2 separate regions of the Homo sapiens genome follow, and region 1 is linked to region 2. The links come from fine-mapping of genetic effects on gene expression. Tissue or cell type: fibroblasts. Region 2 holds a variant in brackets; the other region holds the start of a gene. All regions are shown on one strand. Distances are from middle to middle. Region 1 holds the start of MRPS27 (mitochondrial ribosomal protein S27). Region 2 holds the start of LOC107986422 (a long non-coding RNA gene).

What was found. PIP is the estimated chance that this variant, and not a neighbour inherited with it, causes the effect.
Region 1: MRPS27 starts here. The variant in region 2 is fine-mapped to the expression of MRPS27 in fibroblasts (GTEx, PIP above 0.99).

The regions. Positions count from the first base shown.
Region 1 is chr5:72,316,617-72,324,954 of GRCh38, reverse strand. It overlaps MRPS27 (mitochondrial ribosomal protein S27), which reads left to right and starts at 4,715. Exons shown (of 11, transcript NM_015084.3): 1 at 4,715-4,806. The coding sequence starts at 4,734. It overlaps PTCD2 (pentatricopeptide repeat domain 2), which reads right to left and starts at 4,582. Exons shown (of 10, transcript NM_024754.5): 1 at 4,446-4,582; 2 at 2,691-2,783. The coding sequence starts at 4,572. RefSeq lists enhancers at 4,384-4,593, 4,654-4,983, 4,582-5,122, 5,123-5,664.
Region 2 is chr5:72,287,297-72,295,634 of GRCh38, reverse strand. MRPS27 (mitochondrial ribosomal protein S27) reads left to right here. Exons shown (of 11, transcript NM_015084.3): 4 at 46-104. LOC107986422 (a long non-coding RNA gene) reads left to right here and starts at 111. Exons shown (of 2, transcript XR_001742742.2): 1 at 111-4,685. The variant G/C (reference allele first, on the strand shown) is at 4,150.

The DNA.
Region 1 (8,338 bases), 29 kb before region 2:
CAAGACTCTGTCTCAGAAAAAAAAAAAACAACACCTTAAGAATCCAGTATTTCAACAGATATAACTTGTGTTTTAAAACAAATCAATCAACATTTGTTTATCATATAATCATACTCGGAAGTATCCTTCTTTGTGTGTGAGACACCAAGAAGCGTAAGGAATAGTTCCTGCCCTCAAAGAACTTAAAAGCATTTTGGGGAGGGCAAGCTAAATTTATACAAAGCTACCTGAAAACAATGATGGAGGAGGTGACACATGAATACTATAAACATAATAAGACTCTTCTGTCCTGTTACGACACCTATTACAACTCAGAGTGGACAGAAGAGTCCTGTTACAACCTTTACTATTATGACTCAGAACAGACCAGGTTGGTGAAAGTGGAGGGGTACCAGTGAGAAAGGAAAGGGCTGAAATCAGGTTGGAGAAATGGAGGAGGGGGATATTCTAGGTAAGGAAATCAGCATGAGCAACAGAACAGAACTGGGAATGACAGGTGTGGAGGGAAAAGCTGTGACTAGATCAACCAGAAACCGTCCTAGAAAGGGCGGAGTCCATCACGGGAGAGCCAGGATGCCAGAGAGATGAGTATGTTAATAGTGTGGTATACAACAGAGTACCACTGTGGGCTCTCAAAATGATGAAAGGTTGACAGGACTTTAAACATATCAGTCTGACAATAGAGCAGATTGGCACTGATTATATTAATTGCCTTTCAGAACATGTACACAACTGCCACAGACTTATGAAGACTATGACAACTGGAAATCACAACTGGATGACATGAAGCCCTAACTGCAAACCTCACATAGATCTAAAATACCTGGGTAGAAAGAAAAGACTGAAGTGAAATCTAGATTGAGCCTACTCAACTGGGGATAAATATATTCCCCCCATTCCAAAGGTTTATTTTTTTGCCCCCTATATGGTATTATATAACAGTATGATTAGCGGAGCAGCGAGAGAACATTGATTTCTGGAGGACTGAATTGTGAGGGAATGGAGGCAGAAAGTATCAGGATGGGTGCAGTGGCTCACGCTTGTACTTTAGGAGACTGAGGCGGGATACTAGCTTGAGCCTGGGAGTTCGAGACCAGCCTCAACACAGTGAGACCATCTCTACAAAAAAAAATTAAAAATTAAAAATTAGGCGGTATGGTGGCACTGTAGTCCTAGTTACTCAGGAGGCTAAAGCAGGATTGCTTGAATCCAAGAGTTTGAGGCTGCAGCGAGCTATGATGGTGCCAACTGCACTCCAGCCTAGGTGACAGAGCGAGACTGTCTCTTAAAAAACAAACCAAAACAAAGAGAATGTTAATGTGTTAATCAGGAGCTCACAAACATCTGGCAGTGAGAGGAAGGAGAGCTGGGTCTATGGTTGAAAAAGTCAGTAGGGACACCAAGAGTTATTAAAAAAAAAAGGAAAGTCTTAGATGTGTTCATAAAGGAGGATCAAGGAGGTATATCCACAACCCCCAGGGACCACTGCTGCATCCACACACAATAAAAGGTATGAAATGCTGGGAAGAACTCTATGTGCAGGAGGGAGAGAATGAATGCACAAGATTTTTCAGGTGCTGAAAGGGAAAAAGACCTAGGGTGGTGTTCTTGTTTGTAGCTTTTTATAACAAAAATTTTCAAACATACCCAAGAAATGAAAGAACAGGATAATAATCCCCCTCACTAAGTGCCATTACCCAGCCTCAATCATTATCAATATTTTGCTAATTATGTTTCCTCTACACTACAATCCTCAAACACACTGGATTTTTTTTCAAAGCAAATCCCAGATTTATCTTTTTTTTGAGACAGGGTCTCACTCTGTTACACAGGTTGGAGTGCAGTGGTGTGATCATGGCTTACTGCACCTTAGACCTCCCAGGCTCAAGCAATCCTCCCACCTCAGTCCCTGGAGTAGCTGTGACTACAGGCATGCACCACCACGCCCAACTAACTTTAAAAAAATTTGTAGAGATGAGGTCTACGCTGCTCAGGCTGATCTCAAACTCCCTGGCTCAAGCAATCCTCCTGCCTTGGCCTCCCAAAGTGCTGGAGTTACAGGCATGAGCCATCATGCCCAGCCAAATCCTAGGTTTGGTAGTCAGGTTTCTCTTGTTTTTTAAGAAATTTTTGATCCTACTGACTTTTCTAGCACAGAGTGAAAAATACCAAATGTATCATCACACATAGTACTGTTTTGTTTCATTTGATTTCATTTATATATAGATATGTTTGTGTGTACTGAGATGCAACATAAAATGCATTTTTCACTGAAGGTTACATCAAAAAGTTTGAAAGCCAATCATCTGAAGTTTTTAAACTTTATTGTGCATATGAATGATCTGGGGCCTTTCTCTCTGCACTTCTATCAACCACCCAATAGATGCTGATGCCGCTGGTCCTCAAACCTCACTTTTAATGGCACAGATTTAGACAAGACCAATCGCAGCACTAGCTTTAATACTTCTCTGGGATCGTAAGAGAAGGAATAAGAGGAGAGCTGTAGACGTTGTAGCAGCAAAGTATGAAATGCAAGATAAATATAAGAGTTCACTATGAAACTAACAATAAATGGTCTCAACTTTTTCTAAGGCATAATAAAGTCACTGAAGGAGACACTGAATAGGGATAAAGACAGAGAAACTTAAATGACAGATAAATGACAGAATTAACAAAATAGATTCTATTACCTTTAGTGCCAGAAAGATTACATGCAACAGCCACTTTCTTTTGTTGAAATTCTTTTAATTTCACCACATTATCTGTAAGTAGGTATCTTTTAGCTAAAAATCAGAGAAAGAAAAAAGTAAAGTCATTTTGACTGTTTTAGAAGTTAGCAAATAACATGAATAGAGCTGGATTACCTCTAACATCTATTATAGATAATCCATTAGACAGGTACAAATATAACTGTACAAACTGTACAAATATAAATCCTGGGAAAAACAATTTCTGAACTACCAGAGAATGCAAATCCTCAGCAAAACAGGTTTTATTTGTGTGTGTGAAAGAAGCTAGTGATTAACCGTAGCTAGTGATAAACCTGTGTGGGGACTGGTTGACAGGAAGTTGGGATTTGAAGTACAAATGGGCATTTGCCATCGGTTAAGGGTATCAAGGGCATTTAAAAAAAAAACTAATAACATTTAAATGCAAAACAGGCATATTTAGTTTTGGTTTATCCAGGGAGAAGCACAGTGTAGTGGAAAAAGCTGCAGCATGACCACTGGAACTCCCAGTTTTGTCCTCTGTGAAATGAGGGGGTTAAGGCCTCTCAGATGTGGACTCAAAATACATTTGAGATACATGGAAATCATTGATCACAGCTTAGTAGATTTGGGAAACATCATCCTTTCTTTAGGATCCTTGGCTGTGCATGAGATAAAACGGACCAAGCGTGGCCGAAGAATCACGCACTAACAGAGTTCTGTGAGCTGCAGTAACAAGGTAACAATAAAAGTTGCTATTTATTTACAGAAAGGCAGTCCAGTGAAGTGGTTAGGAGCAGGTTTCTATTGTTGGGTGTGTTCAAATCCCACCTCTAACAGTTCCCTCTGACTTTGGGCAAATTACTTAACCTTGTTCCTCCTCTGTAAATGGAGAAAAGAATGGTACTTCTCTTGCTGGGTGTTGTCTAGAGAAAAGGAATTAATGTATGTAAACTACATTAAAGTAATGCCTGACAAACATTTTTACTATCACTCACTAGCATCTTCAGATTTAACTCTCTTCATAGAGATGTTAGAGGATAGTTTTGAAAAATGAAGAAACGTGCCGTTAAGTCTTTTAGATTGTTAGCAGAACTGAGACTCCATAAGACCTCTGCTTCCAAACTCTGCAGAAAAGAAAAAGGCCGGGCGCGGTGGCTCACTCCTATAATCCCAGCACTTTGGGAGGCCGAGGCGGGTGGACCACGAGGTCAGGAGTTCGAAACCAGCCTGGCCAACATAGTGAAACCCGTCTCTACTAAAAATACAAAAAATTACCCGGGCGTGGTGGCGCACGCCTGTAGTCCCAACTACTCGGAAAGCTGAGGCAGGAGAATCGCTTGAACCCGGGAGGCGGAGGCTGCAGTGAGCCGAGATCGCGCCACCGCACTCCAGCTTGGGCGACAGAGCAAGACTTCGTCTCAAAAATAAATAAATAAATAAATAAAAGTCACCCAAGGCGGGAGGGATGTTCCTGAAGACGAACGTCGCCCCATCTGAGGGAGCACTACAGCCCCAAGGTCAATACCCCAGCAGTCCTTCGATTTGCAGGCACTGGGGGTATCCACGACCCCCAGTGGTCACCACTGCACCCACGTGCAACTAGAGGGCGAGGGTGCGCTCCAGGCCAGTGAGTGACTTAGGAGCTGTGGCTGCTCCACAGAGATGCTAGCTGGGATCTAACACTCCCTTCTCTCCCATCCCTCCCCTCCTTCCCTAGGCTAAAGCCGCGGATACCTCCGAGAGGGCAGCGGCAGCTGACAGAGCCGGAGCCTCCCACCCCAGGATACACCAAAATCTGCAGCGCCTGCAGGAGAACTCGATTCGAGGGCCGAAATGCAGCAGCCATACTGTCTCGGACCATACCAACTACTGGAACCGGGGCGAGGAGGCGGAGCGTCGGTCCTGTCGTCGAGAGCGACAAAAGGGATTCGTCCAATTCTGGGCGCCCCGAGAGGTCGAGCTGTAACCCCGCCCCTTCCTCTGTCCGTAACCCGTTGGCTGTTCCTTTTGGTACGCTCCAAGATGGCTGCCTCCATAGTGCGGCGCGGGATGCTCCTGGCGCGGCAAGTGGTTCTTCCTCAGCTCTCTCCTGCAGGTTGGCCGGACAGCTTCATTAGGCCCCTGATTATTCTGTTTTTTGGGTGAAGGGAGCGGTGGGCTTTCAAGAGGAGAGGAAACGTTTCTGGAATCTGATTGCTAGGGACGCCATTTGGGGTGTTTGGTAGTGCAGAAGAAGGAGACAAGGTATCTGATCCATTTCCTTCCCTAAAATAACAGTATGTTCCTGTCCAAAGGTACGAAGAGCAGTGGAAGGTTATATAGCATGAGGGAATTTGCGTATGATTCGCCAGATTTATGTGTTGGGGTGGTCGTGCTTTTGCTGACCACGAAAAACCCAAATGTGCGCCGGGCGCGGTGGCCCACGCCTGTGGTCCCAGCACTTTGGGAACGCGAGGCGGGCGGATCGCCAGGAGTTCGAGACCAGCCTGGCCAACAGGGCGAAACCCCATCTCTACTAAAAAATACAAAGAAATTATCTGGGCCTGGTGGCGCGCGCCTGTAATCCCAGCTACTCGGGGGGCTGAGGCAGGATAATCGCTTGAACTCGGGAGGCGGAGGTTGCAGTGAGCAGAGATCGCGCCACTACACTCCAGCCTGGGCAACAGAGCGAGACCCTGTCTCAAAAAAAAAAAAAAAAAAAAAAAAGGAAAAACCTAAATGTGTCCATTCCTGGGGCTGGGACATTTTTCTCCCATCTGAGGTTTCTTTAGAGGGACGTCAGATAAACATTTTTCCCACCACCACACATTTAGCTGGACCCCTGGTCTTCGTGGAAGAATTTTTCAGTATTAATCTCATTTTATCTGATGACCTAGAGCACAACTTTTGATTGACCTTTCTTTGCTATAGTTTTCCACGTGTAGATAATAAATGCTATTAGTTACTTGTAAAATACTTTGATATCTGAACTAAATGGCAGCCCACTCAAAGCCTGCATAGTGGATCTGATAATGAAAACATTGGAAAAAAGTTTTAAAGTATTTATAGAAGCCAAATTTGCAGTGATTCTAACCACATAATCCAGACAGACATATTTGATAAAAATGCAATAATCACACTCGATTTTTCCATTGCCGCTTATCTTCCCTTTCCAACCTACCTCCCATCCTCTATTTTTTTAAAAAGCACGCACTTCTTTAGGAACAGCCATTAAACGTCAATGTGAAACCTCAGAGTTGGCCACCAGTTTTCTGAAGATTAAGTGGCTGACCTGGTGAAAACGTTTAATGTCACACATTAGGCAGTGTTATGCACAACGCTTGACACCTTAGTAAGAATTAGCTGTTGTAGCTATTTTCTGTTTATGTGGTTTCCGTGAACAACTACACACAGAGGGCATTTTGGGAGACCTGTCTTTCCCCACAATCACCTCCCCAGCCTTTTTTTTTTTTTTCGGGTTTCGTTCTTGTTGCCCAGGTTAGAGTGCAATGGCACGATCTCGGCTTACTGCAGCCTCTGCCTCCCGGGTTCAAGTGATTCTCCTGCCTCAGCCTCCCGAGTAGCTGAGATTACAGGCATGCGCCACCACTCCCGGCTAATTTTGTATTTTCAGTAGAGACGGGGTTTCTCCATGTTGGTCAGGCTGGTCTCTAACTCCTGACCTCAGGTGATCCACCCGCCTCTACTTCCCAAGGTGCTGGGATTACGGGCGTGAGCCACTGTGCCCAGCTGGCCCAGCTTTTTAATCTCCCAGTTCAGAACTCTTGAGCAATGATCTAGATATTGTCCTGACTCCAGAATGTAGAAAGGTGATTACTTATGCTAGAATGAAGCATATGCTAGAATGAAGGCATAGAGAATAACAGATAATAAATAGAGAGTAAGCAAGTAGCTGGTATGCGGGAGTACAGTTGGCTTCCTTATCCGAGCATTCTGCATCTGCAGAGTCAACCAACAGCGGATCAAAATACTACAAAACAAAACAAAAACTAACAATAAAAAATAATACAACAGTAAAATAATACAAAGAAAATACAACATGACAACCACTTACATTGCGTTTACATTGTGTTAGGTATTATAAGTAATCTACAAATGACTTAAAGCAGCTTGTCCAACCCTCAGCCCAGGACAGTTTTGAATGTGGCCCAACACAAATTTGTAAACTTAACTAAAATATTAGGAGATTTTTAGCATTTTTTGTTTTGTTTGTTTGCCCATCAGCTATCATTAGTGTTAGTGTAGTTTATGTATGTGTGGCCCAAGACAATTGTTCTTCTTCCAATGTGACCAGGGAAGCCAAAAAAATGGACACCCCAGCTTAAAGTAATGCAGGAGGATGTTTGTGGGTTATTTGCAAATACTGTGCAATTTTATGTAAGAGACTTCTGCATTCTCAGATTTTGGTATTTGAGGGGGTATTCTAGAACCATCCCCCTGGGGCAGGAGAATTGCTTGAACCCTGGAGGCAAAGGTTGCAGTGAGCCAAGATCATGCCACTACACTCCAGCCTGGGCAACAGAGAGATACTCCATCTCAAAAAAATAATAATAATAAATAAAATTAGGCCGGGTGTGGTGGCTCACACCTGTAATCCCAGCACTTTGGGAGGCTGAGGTGGGTGGATCACCTGAGGTCAGGAGTTTGAGACCAGCCTGGCCAACATGGAGAAACCCTGTCTCTATTAAAAATACAAAATTAGGCGTGGTGGCGCATGCCTGAAATCCCAGCTACTCAGGAGGCTGAGGCAGGAGAATCGCTTGAACCTGGAAGGCCTCCGCCTTCCGGTTGCAGTGAGCTGAGATCATGCCATTGCACTCCAGCCTGGGCAACAAGAGCGAAACTCCATTTCCAAAACGAAAAAATAAATGGAAATTAATTTAAATAATTATAGTCTTTTCTTAGTTCTCCTTTTGAAAGCGTCTTTGGAAACCTTATTGTTGCCTCATTATTTAATTTGTAGAACTCAAATTTAGATATATTATTCTAGTAAAGATCTGTGTTCACAGTAAGAGAATGAACTGTGTATAAATTCACACAGATGTGTTTGTATTTGTTTATTTGTTTGAGCTGGAAAGTAGGTAGAGAATAAAAACAGCATTCCAATACTGTGTTTAATCAGCCCCCATGCTATCTAGTTGTGTTGGGCTTTTGGTCTGCTGTGACCTCAGCATAATTATCTGTCATTTTTTCTGTTTGTTTTTTTTTTTTTTTGAGACGGAGTTTCGCTCTTATTGCCCAGGTTGGAATGCAATGGCGTGATCTCGGCTCACCACAACCTCCACCTCCTGGCTTCAAGGGATTCTCTTGCCTCAGCCTCCCAAGTACCTGGGATTACAGGCATGCACCACCACGCCTGGCTAATTTTGTATTTTTAGTAGAGGCAAGGTTTCTCCATGTTGGTCAGGCTCGCCTCGAACTCCCGACCTCAGGTGATCCGCCCACCTCGGCCTCCCAAAGTGCTGGGATTACAGGCATGAGCCACTGCACCTGGCTGTTTTTCTATTTTTTTAAACAGAGTTATTGAGGTATAATTCACATGCCATACAATTCATCCATTTAAAATACACAATTCAGGCCAGGCATGGTGGCTCACGCCTGTAATCCCAGCACTTTGGGAGGCCAAG
Region 2 (8,338 bases):
GACATAATTTATATTCAACCAAAGGTTTCTTTTTCTGTCTTTTAGCTTATAGACAACATTTCCTCTCGGGAAGAGATAGATCATGCAGAGTATTACCTTTACAAGTAAGTTTTCCATTTGATTTGGCTATGTACTCTGTGATTTCACACCCCTTTTTTACATAAAAGTTGGTATATGTTGTGTATAATTTTGACACCTTCTAAGTTTATATTTTAAAGATCTTTTCATATGAGTATAGAGAGAGTTTCTGATTTTTTATAACTGCATTTTATTCCATACTGTGAGTTTATTATTTAAACCAGTTCCCTTTTTATGGACCTCTAGGTTGTTCTCTTTTTTGTATTGTATACGATGTTATAATTGATAACCTTGTACGTATGTAATTTTTCACCTAATTTTCATGAGTATATATATTTATAGTTTTAATCGCTATTGACAAATTGCTTTCTGTTGAAGTTTTTACATTCCCACTAGCAAGGTATGAGAGACATGTATTTTTACAGCTTGGCCAATAGTTAGGTATTTTCACATGTTTGCATTTTTTTGCCAATCTGATAGGTGAAAATTTATACACACACACACAAACACACACACACACAAGTTGAGTATCTCTTATCTAAGATGCTTGAAACCAGAAGTGTTTCAGATTTTGGATTTTTTTAGATTTTTGAATATTTGCATTATACTTACTGTTTGAGTACCTCTAATTCGAAAATCCACAATGCTTCAATGAGCATTTCCTTTGAACATCATGTTGGTGCTCAAAAAATTGTGGATTTTGGAACTTTTCAAATTAGAGATACTCAATCTGTATGTATATCTCTTCTCTCCTTTTTTTTTTTACAGGTGGAATTTTACCCGATGTGAACTGTTATGTACCTATTTTCAGTTAACACTGTTTTAAAACCTTTTCTACATTACCACATTTACTTCACTCTTTCTCACAGCTGCTAACAATTCCATTGTGAACTACCCACAAAACTCAGCCATGTGTACAAAAAGTATGTTCAGTGCAACATCATTTATGGTAGCAAAAGACTGAAACAACCTAATGCACATTAAATAAAGAACTGGTCAAACAAGTATCTGTCAGAATTGTACCTTACAACTAAATTTTTATTGCGATTTCAGTTTTAAAAATCTGATTTGTGATTTGTTCCAGTTCCTATGTTCCAAAAATAGACTCAGATTGAAATTTTAAATGTTTCCAGTAAGCATTGCATTAGAGTTTCCCATTTGATCTTGCTTGTTTTGATCAAGAGAATTTTTAGTTGTTTCTGTCTAGATGCATTTTTATTTTTTGTTGTTGTTGTTGTTGTTTTGGGGGGTTTTTTGGGGAGTAGTTTTTTTCTAGATGCATTTTTTAAAGCTTACTGTATTTTAGTGAAAATGTATTCGTTTTTCTCTGATTTTGCTAAATAATAATGAGGCTTTTTTTTTAATTTCTGAATTGGGTAGATGCTACCACTTTTTGGGTATTTTCTATTTAAATGTAAACCTCAAGTAGGCTAGATTCCACACCTTTAAAAAACATTTATTTTAAATCTCAGATTGGCTTTAACAATGTCCTAAGTTGAAATTTTAGGTCCTAACTTAGTTGCAAGTCATCTTAGTTGTGAGTGCCCTCTTGTACTTCATTAGGATAAAGATAAACGAACCCCTTGATGAGAGGTGGCCCTGCCTTCCTTTAGTGGCTCTTTGGGACTGTAGGGCTGCTTTGGTAGTTACTTTTTGTCTGTGATGAAGGGTGTATTTGGGCTGGCATCTGGCCAGTTCTCATATTTTTATTTATAGCAAAATGCAGAACATAGTTTCAATTTCTAAATATAAACTGTTTTTTAGAATTTCATCCTGTGAGATACAGTGCCATAGTGTTGGGAGAAGTATGTTCCAAATTCAGAAGTACTTCTGTAGCATCAAATTGATTTCAGTGACTCAGCATTTCAACAAGTATTTACCGAGCACCTATTATGTGCGCAGGCCCTTTCCTGGGTGCTGGATATCTAATGTTGAATAAGTTAGACATTCTCCAAGTATTACTGAAAAGTTGAAATTCTGTTTTTAAGACCTTCTATGATTAATTCTTCACATGATGTTCAGTTTTGTGTGGCCTGGGGTATAACTGAAAGTTTCATAAGATCACTACGTCCTATTTCCATATAGATCAAATAAAAGACTCTTGTCCATCATAAATCTGAGCCACTGTTTAATTGGACATCCCATTTTTTGCTTTAATCAAAACTAGTTCTTTAGCTATGATTTATCGTTTATCTTAGTTCTTTCTCCTCCCTTCCATTACCAAGAAAATTGACTCTCTTTTTATCAGCTTTTTTTTTTTTTAAGACAGAAATGTTTTTATGACTTCATGTGCTTGTATATATATGAGACTAGGTAGAACTCTACAAAGCTGCGTCGGAACAGTGGAGATTGGCTGGGTTCTCTCGTTAGCTAAGTGCCTCACTCTTGCTTTCCACCCTTAGAGAATATACAGAACATACTTATGCCTTAGCAAAATTAAAAATTACAAGTTATAAACTCTTGGGGTTTATCTCAAGTAATCAAAATCAGGGATGTTAATCCTGAAGACACCAAGGACTTACTGCTGTGTAATATTTCTACCAGTTAGGCCTTCAATCATTATGATGCCTAACATCTCCTCATGGGATGACTTTAGACATCTCGGAGCAAACTTACAATTCCAGGTCTAAGGTGAGGAAATGAAAAAGGAACTTCTTAATTTTATACAACTCACAGCTTGCAGGCCTGGGGTTAGGATTTCTCAGTCCTTAAGCAGTACCGTCTTTAACAGACAAGCCCACAGGAGAACTTTGGCATTGGTTCACCTCTTTCTCTGACATAACCTGTGAACACCAGGCTCTGCTAGCAGGAGTGTAGCTGCCACATCTTCTCCTCTTCTAGTGATCAAATTTCCGCAATTATTATGTAAAGTCTAGAGCCAAAGAAGTTTAGAAACCTTGAATGATCAGTGAAGAGCTGATTGAGCTTCTGCCATTGCATCAGGCACACAAGTAAACAGTTCCAAGTTCCAGCAGCTCAGGGTGCTGCTGGTACCTGCCAGCTTATTATCACCCTATCATCCCAGCAGAAGATTTCAAGTTTTGAATCTCTGAAAGTACATAGGCTTAAATGTTTAGGGACTTCAACATTAAAGGGATCTTTTAAGGAGAGATAGAAAGGCTGCTATTCAGACAGCAGGCAGGAGAACAAATTTCTAAGTACTTTTATTTGGGCCGTGGTCTATTCTCTGGGAGCTGGCAATCCTATGATCAACTTTTGCCTTCTATTTATAAATAAAAAATGAAAACACCAAGGAAAGGGTGAAGCTCTAACCAAAGAATAATGTGAACTAAAAATGATTAAGGCAATACCAGCAACTATATTCATTGGCCAAAAAAAAAAAAAAAAAAAAACTGGTAATACCCATATAAAAGGAAAATAAACCAAGAGTAAAAGTGATTAAAATAGCAACAAAGTTAAAACAAAGTAAAATAAACAAAATAAGGAAACAAGGCATACTGTTGGGCTGTGACAAATAAAGAAAACTTAAATAAGATAATAAAAAATAAATACAGTAAAATGAAATAAGGATTTGAGCCAGGGACTTTATACGATATGTATAGTTTAAGCCGGGAGGTTGGGAAAATAGGCATAGGTGTGCTCTTGCACAGATATTACTAGCAGGCTAAATGGTAAACCTCTTTATGAGTGGTTTTCAAGCTGTCTTCTGAGAAGCCCTGGAGCTAGTTTCTTATAGGCCCTCTAGGGCGTGGCTTGGGGGAAGAATAGGTCTGGAGATAGGCCAGACCATGCTGCCACAGGCCATTTGCTTTTGCTTCTGTTTCTGCCAGAGAAACTGTGCCTCCAGCTGCCTTATCGGTGTCTACAGAGAAAATTCAGAGAGGACTGTGAACTTGCATAAGAATAAAATTATATTTTTATTTTCACTAACCTCAATAATATTTAGCATTTCTTTCATTTATGAATGTAGGCAGCAGATGACTATAATATTAACAGCATCTGTGTCTTTCTTGCCAATAAAAATCATTGATTTTTTCATATCACATTACATTTGTTACAGATATCACTGCTTAGAAATTATGTTAGTAATTAAACCTACCGCTAGCTAGT[G/C]TTATTTCATGCATTAATAAAGCAGCACATATGTTACCATATCCCAAAGATTTCTTAATATCTTGATAATTGTATTTCAATATAATTGGTTTCTGTTGTAAGAAACTAATTCTGAGAAGCCTTCATCAGACTGCCAGAGGGTTCAAGACAAAAAATTGTTAGGAACCCTGCTGTGAGATCTTGTTTGAAAAATAGGTTCTTTTGCTTAGACTTATTTTTATTTCTTCCCTTAGGTTTTTTGGGTTTTAAATACTCTGGGTCTTTGTTTTCTCTTCTTACAAAGAAGACTTTCTTAGTTTAGACCTTACCAAGTAAGACAAGCATATAATTGATGGGTTTTCTGTCTTCACAATGAAAATTTAGATACAGCCAGTCTCCCAAGTTTCCCTACAGCACCGGAAAAAAGGTGTGGTGAGGAGTGAGAAGATTTGGACAGGCCCTGAGATGCTACCTGTCAGGAGACCAGCGCTGGCAGGGTGCTAGACAGGAGCATTTCCGCTTTATTTTGATATCACCATCACCCAGTCCTTGGTGAGGTAAGAAGTCATGCTCTTTCCCAGTGGTAGCAGCAAAGGTTCTGTGACGCAGAAAAGAGAGGTAACAGAACAGCTCAGCTAACAGCTGCTGACAGGAAATGTCTGTTCAGTGGGCATAAAAAGACTGCATTTATTTTTTATATTTGTTTAAAAGAATTTTTATATCCCATGTTAATTTTAAAAACAGTTAGGCAAAATACTTTCTTTTTCTGGGCAAAGGATTAATTTCTACTTCCTATCCACACGCCCTCTTGTTAATATTTGGAAGAGAAAAGGGTTCCTACCTTTGCTTTACTATAAACTTAGAGCATTCCTAAGAATTAGATTTGCATCTTTATTTTACTGATGCAGAGACTAAAACATAGAGATTGGCTGAGCACACCCAACATAGAGACTTAAGTATAAGCCACTGCCTGTCCTGAGAGAGAAACCACAAGGATCAGATGTGAGCAGTGGGGCAATGCTATAAAAACAATGCAGTGCTGTCTCAGTGCAAGGTTTATTGTTAAGGATCGCAGATGGGGCTACAATTTCTTTATAGGAAACTAAGGCAGAAGAAATTCCAGAGAGACCAGGCTTAGCTGTTCCTCTATAAGAGATCCCCTTTTAAAAGGGATCTGTCTGCCTGGAGTCAGTTATGGTGAGTGTATGTAGAGTTTTATACAATGGGAACTTTTTCCTTTTTCATCTTGTAGAGAGCATCTTTCCTGGGCCACCTAGTCTGTAGTTCTGAGCTTTCCCCCCATAACCTCCAAGTCCACATGCCCAATGTATACTGCCCAAATGCAGACAAGTGAACCTTGGGGCGGGCTCTATGTCTCTATTTTCAGGAGATAAAACAGCATGTTACTGGTAAAATTGTGCCATTGGCAAAAACCATTATTTTCATGGTTATGACAAGCTTTAACCATTCTTGTGTTAGTATTTGATTACTGCATTGCTAAAATGCAAACTCAAGCCATAAAAATTTCCTCTTTCCACTTAGTGTCCTCATCTTCACTGAGGATATTTGCAAATTGCATTTTTAAAGGCTTACATAGGCCTTCGAATCATGTTGGGACCATGGTAGTTTAGAGATGTATGAAATTAAACTTGCTCCTTCTACTATCCGGGTGTCAATAATCAGAACTGATAATTTGATCTGCAACGTAACAGTCATTCCTGAAGGATAAGTCATAGAAATTTCTAACATATATAACATATACTCCTTATATTAAGGATGTAAATTTTTTTTTAGGCCAGGCACAGCGGCTCATGCCTGTAATCCCAGCACTTGGGGCAGACGGATTGCTTGAGCACAGGGGTTTAATACCAGCCTGGGCAACATAACAAACCTTATCTCTATAAAAAGATACAAAAAATTAGCCGGGTGTGGTGGTGCACACCTGTAGTCCCAACTACCTGGGAGACTGAGGTGGGAAGATCACCTGAGCTTGGGAGGTCGAGGCTGCAGTGAACCGAGGTCATACCACTGTACTCCAGCGTAGGTGACAGAGTGAGACCCCTGTCTCAAAAAAAAAAAAGAATATAGCATTCTTTTAAAGCAGCCTTTTAGTTTTTAGCAAACATGTAGGGAATGCTGAATTGTTATACAATAAGAAAAGACTGTTGCAAAGCTCAGTGGAAGATGAGTTTTTCTCAGAATACAGCTCTCAGTGTTGCTATGGAGAGTGGCATGCCACCCAGTAAGAAAGGAAGTTCAGATTGCGTGGCAAGCTGTGTACTGCCAACACATTCATCCATGCTGTACGTGGGTCTCAAGTATCTTTCACTATTTGCTTAGCCAACCTGGCAGATCCCAGGTATCCCTGGTTGGAGATGGATAGCAGGTCAGGAACAGCTGGGCCAAGGCAGATGGCAGCCTGCATGTCTCCAGGTCCTGGGTTGGCAGCCAGCCTAAAAAGGAAGGACCAAAATAGCTTCATTTTTCATGAAGCAAAAATACCCAATGGTTCCTTGGAAGGCTATAGCACCACCCCAGGCCTATGTTGTAAAAATCCATTTCTGCCTGTAGGAAAAGGGGAAGGTGGGAGTTTATTAAGAGGGATTATTAAGAGGGAACAGCATGCATTCGTTTACGCAGCAGTAATTTTCCTTTGAGGGCGTAGAGACTTTGTGTTTCACAGCAATAAAAGGTAATCTTAAATTTTTCTGTTAGCATATTGCCAGGTCGCATTATGCCTGAACATTATTAAGAAAAGAGTAAGAACCCAAGGGGAGAGAAATGAGTCTGAGAGCATTTTTTAGTAGCACTTCTATACTTTAATATTGCCTAGTTCTTTATTTAGTTCTTATTTGCTGATCCTTACCACAGGCCTGGGAGATTGCTTATTATTGTTAATAGCTCTGTACTGGAAAATAGCAGATCGTTGGTCATAGTGCATGCATTGCCAGAGATCATGGGAGCTTTGTGATAAGGATTAGAATTCTTGGCCTCCATGGCCGGGCGCAGTGGCTCACGCCTGTAATCCCAGCACTTTGGGAGCCGAGGCGGGCAGATCACGAGGTCAGGAGATCGAGACCATCCTTGCTAACACAGTGAAACCCCGTCTTTGCTAAAAATACAAAAACAAAATTAGCTGGGCATGGTGGTGGGCGCCTGTAGACCCAGCTACATGGGAGGCTAAGGCGGGAGAACGGCATGAACCCAGGAGGCGGAGCTTGCAGTGAGCCGAGATCATGCCATTGCACTCCAGCCTGGGCGACAGAGCAAGACTCCATCTCAAAAAAAAAAAAAAAGAATTCTTGCCCTCCACTGCTTCAGACTCTACTTCTCTTCCCACTGGTCTTATTATTTCATCTGGAGCCTCATCATAGGAAGAGTGAACCTTCAAGGTATTTTTTTGGCTTTGGCTTAAGCATTCCACCTAGCTTTCCCAGAATGATCTCATACCTTAGATGGTTATTCCATTTTATTCCTCTGGTGTGCTAACTATGTACCTCTGCAGACTCCAGTCCTGAGTCCCTAGGAGTATGTGCTGCTGCAGACATCCATGCACAAGTCTTTGTATAGATGCGTGCTTTCATTTCTGTGGGATAAATAGCTAGGGGTAGAATGATTGGAGCATATGGTAAGTAAATGTTTAACTTTTTAAGAAACTACCAAATTGTTTTCTGAAGTGATTATACCATTTATAGTCCCAACAGCAGTTCCGCTTCCTCCACATTTGTGCCAACACATTTAGCCATACCAACATGTGTTTAGTGGTATCTTATTGTGGCTTTAATTATTTGCCCAATGAGTAATGATATTTCCTTTGGTAAAGTGTTCGAATCTTTTGTCAATTTTTTTTGTTTGTTTGTTTGTTTTTTATTGAGATGGAGTCTCTGTCATGCAGGCTGGAGTGCGGTAGCACGATCTTGGCTCACTGCAGCCTCCACCTCCCAAGTTCAAGCAATTCTCCTGCCTCAGCCTCCCAAGTAGCTGGGATTACAGGCAGTTGCCACCACGCCTGGCTAATTTTTGTGTTTTTGTAGAGATAGGGTTTCACCATGTTGGCAAGGCCGGTCTTGAACTCCTGACCTCAGGTGATCTGCCTACCTCGGCCTCCCAAAGTGCTGGGATTACAGGCATGAGCCACCATACCCAACCTGTTTTTATTTTTTATGTAAGTCCAATTTATCAACTTTTTTTTTTTAATGGATTGTGCTTT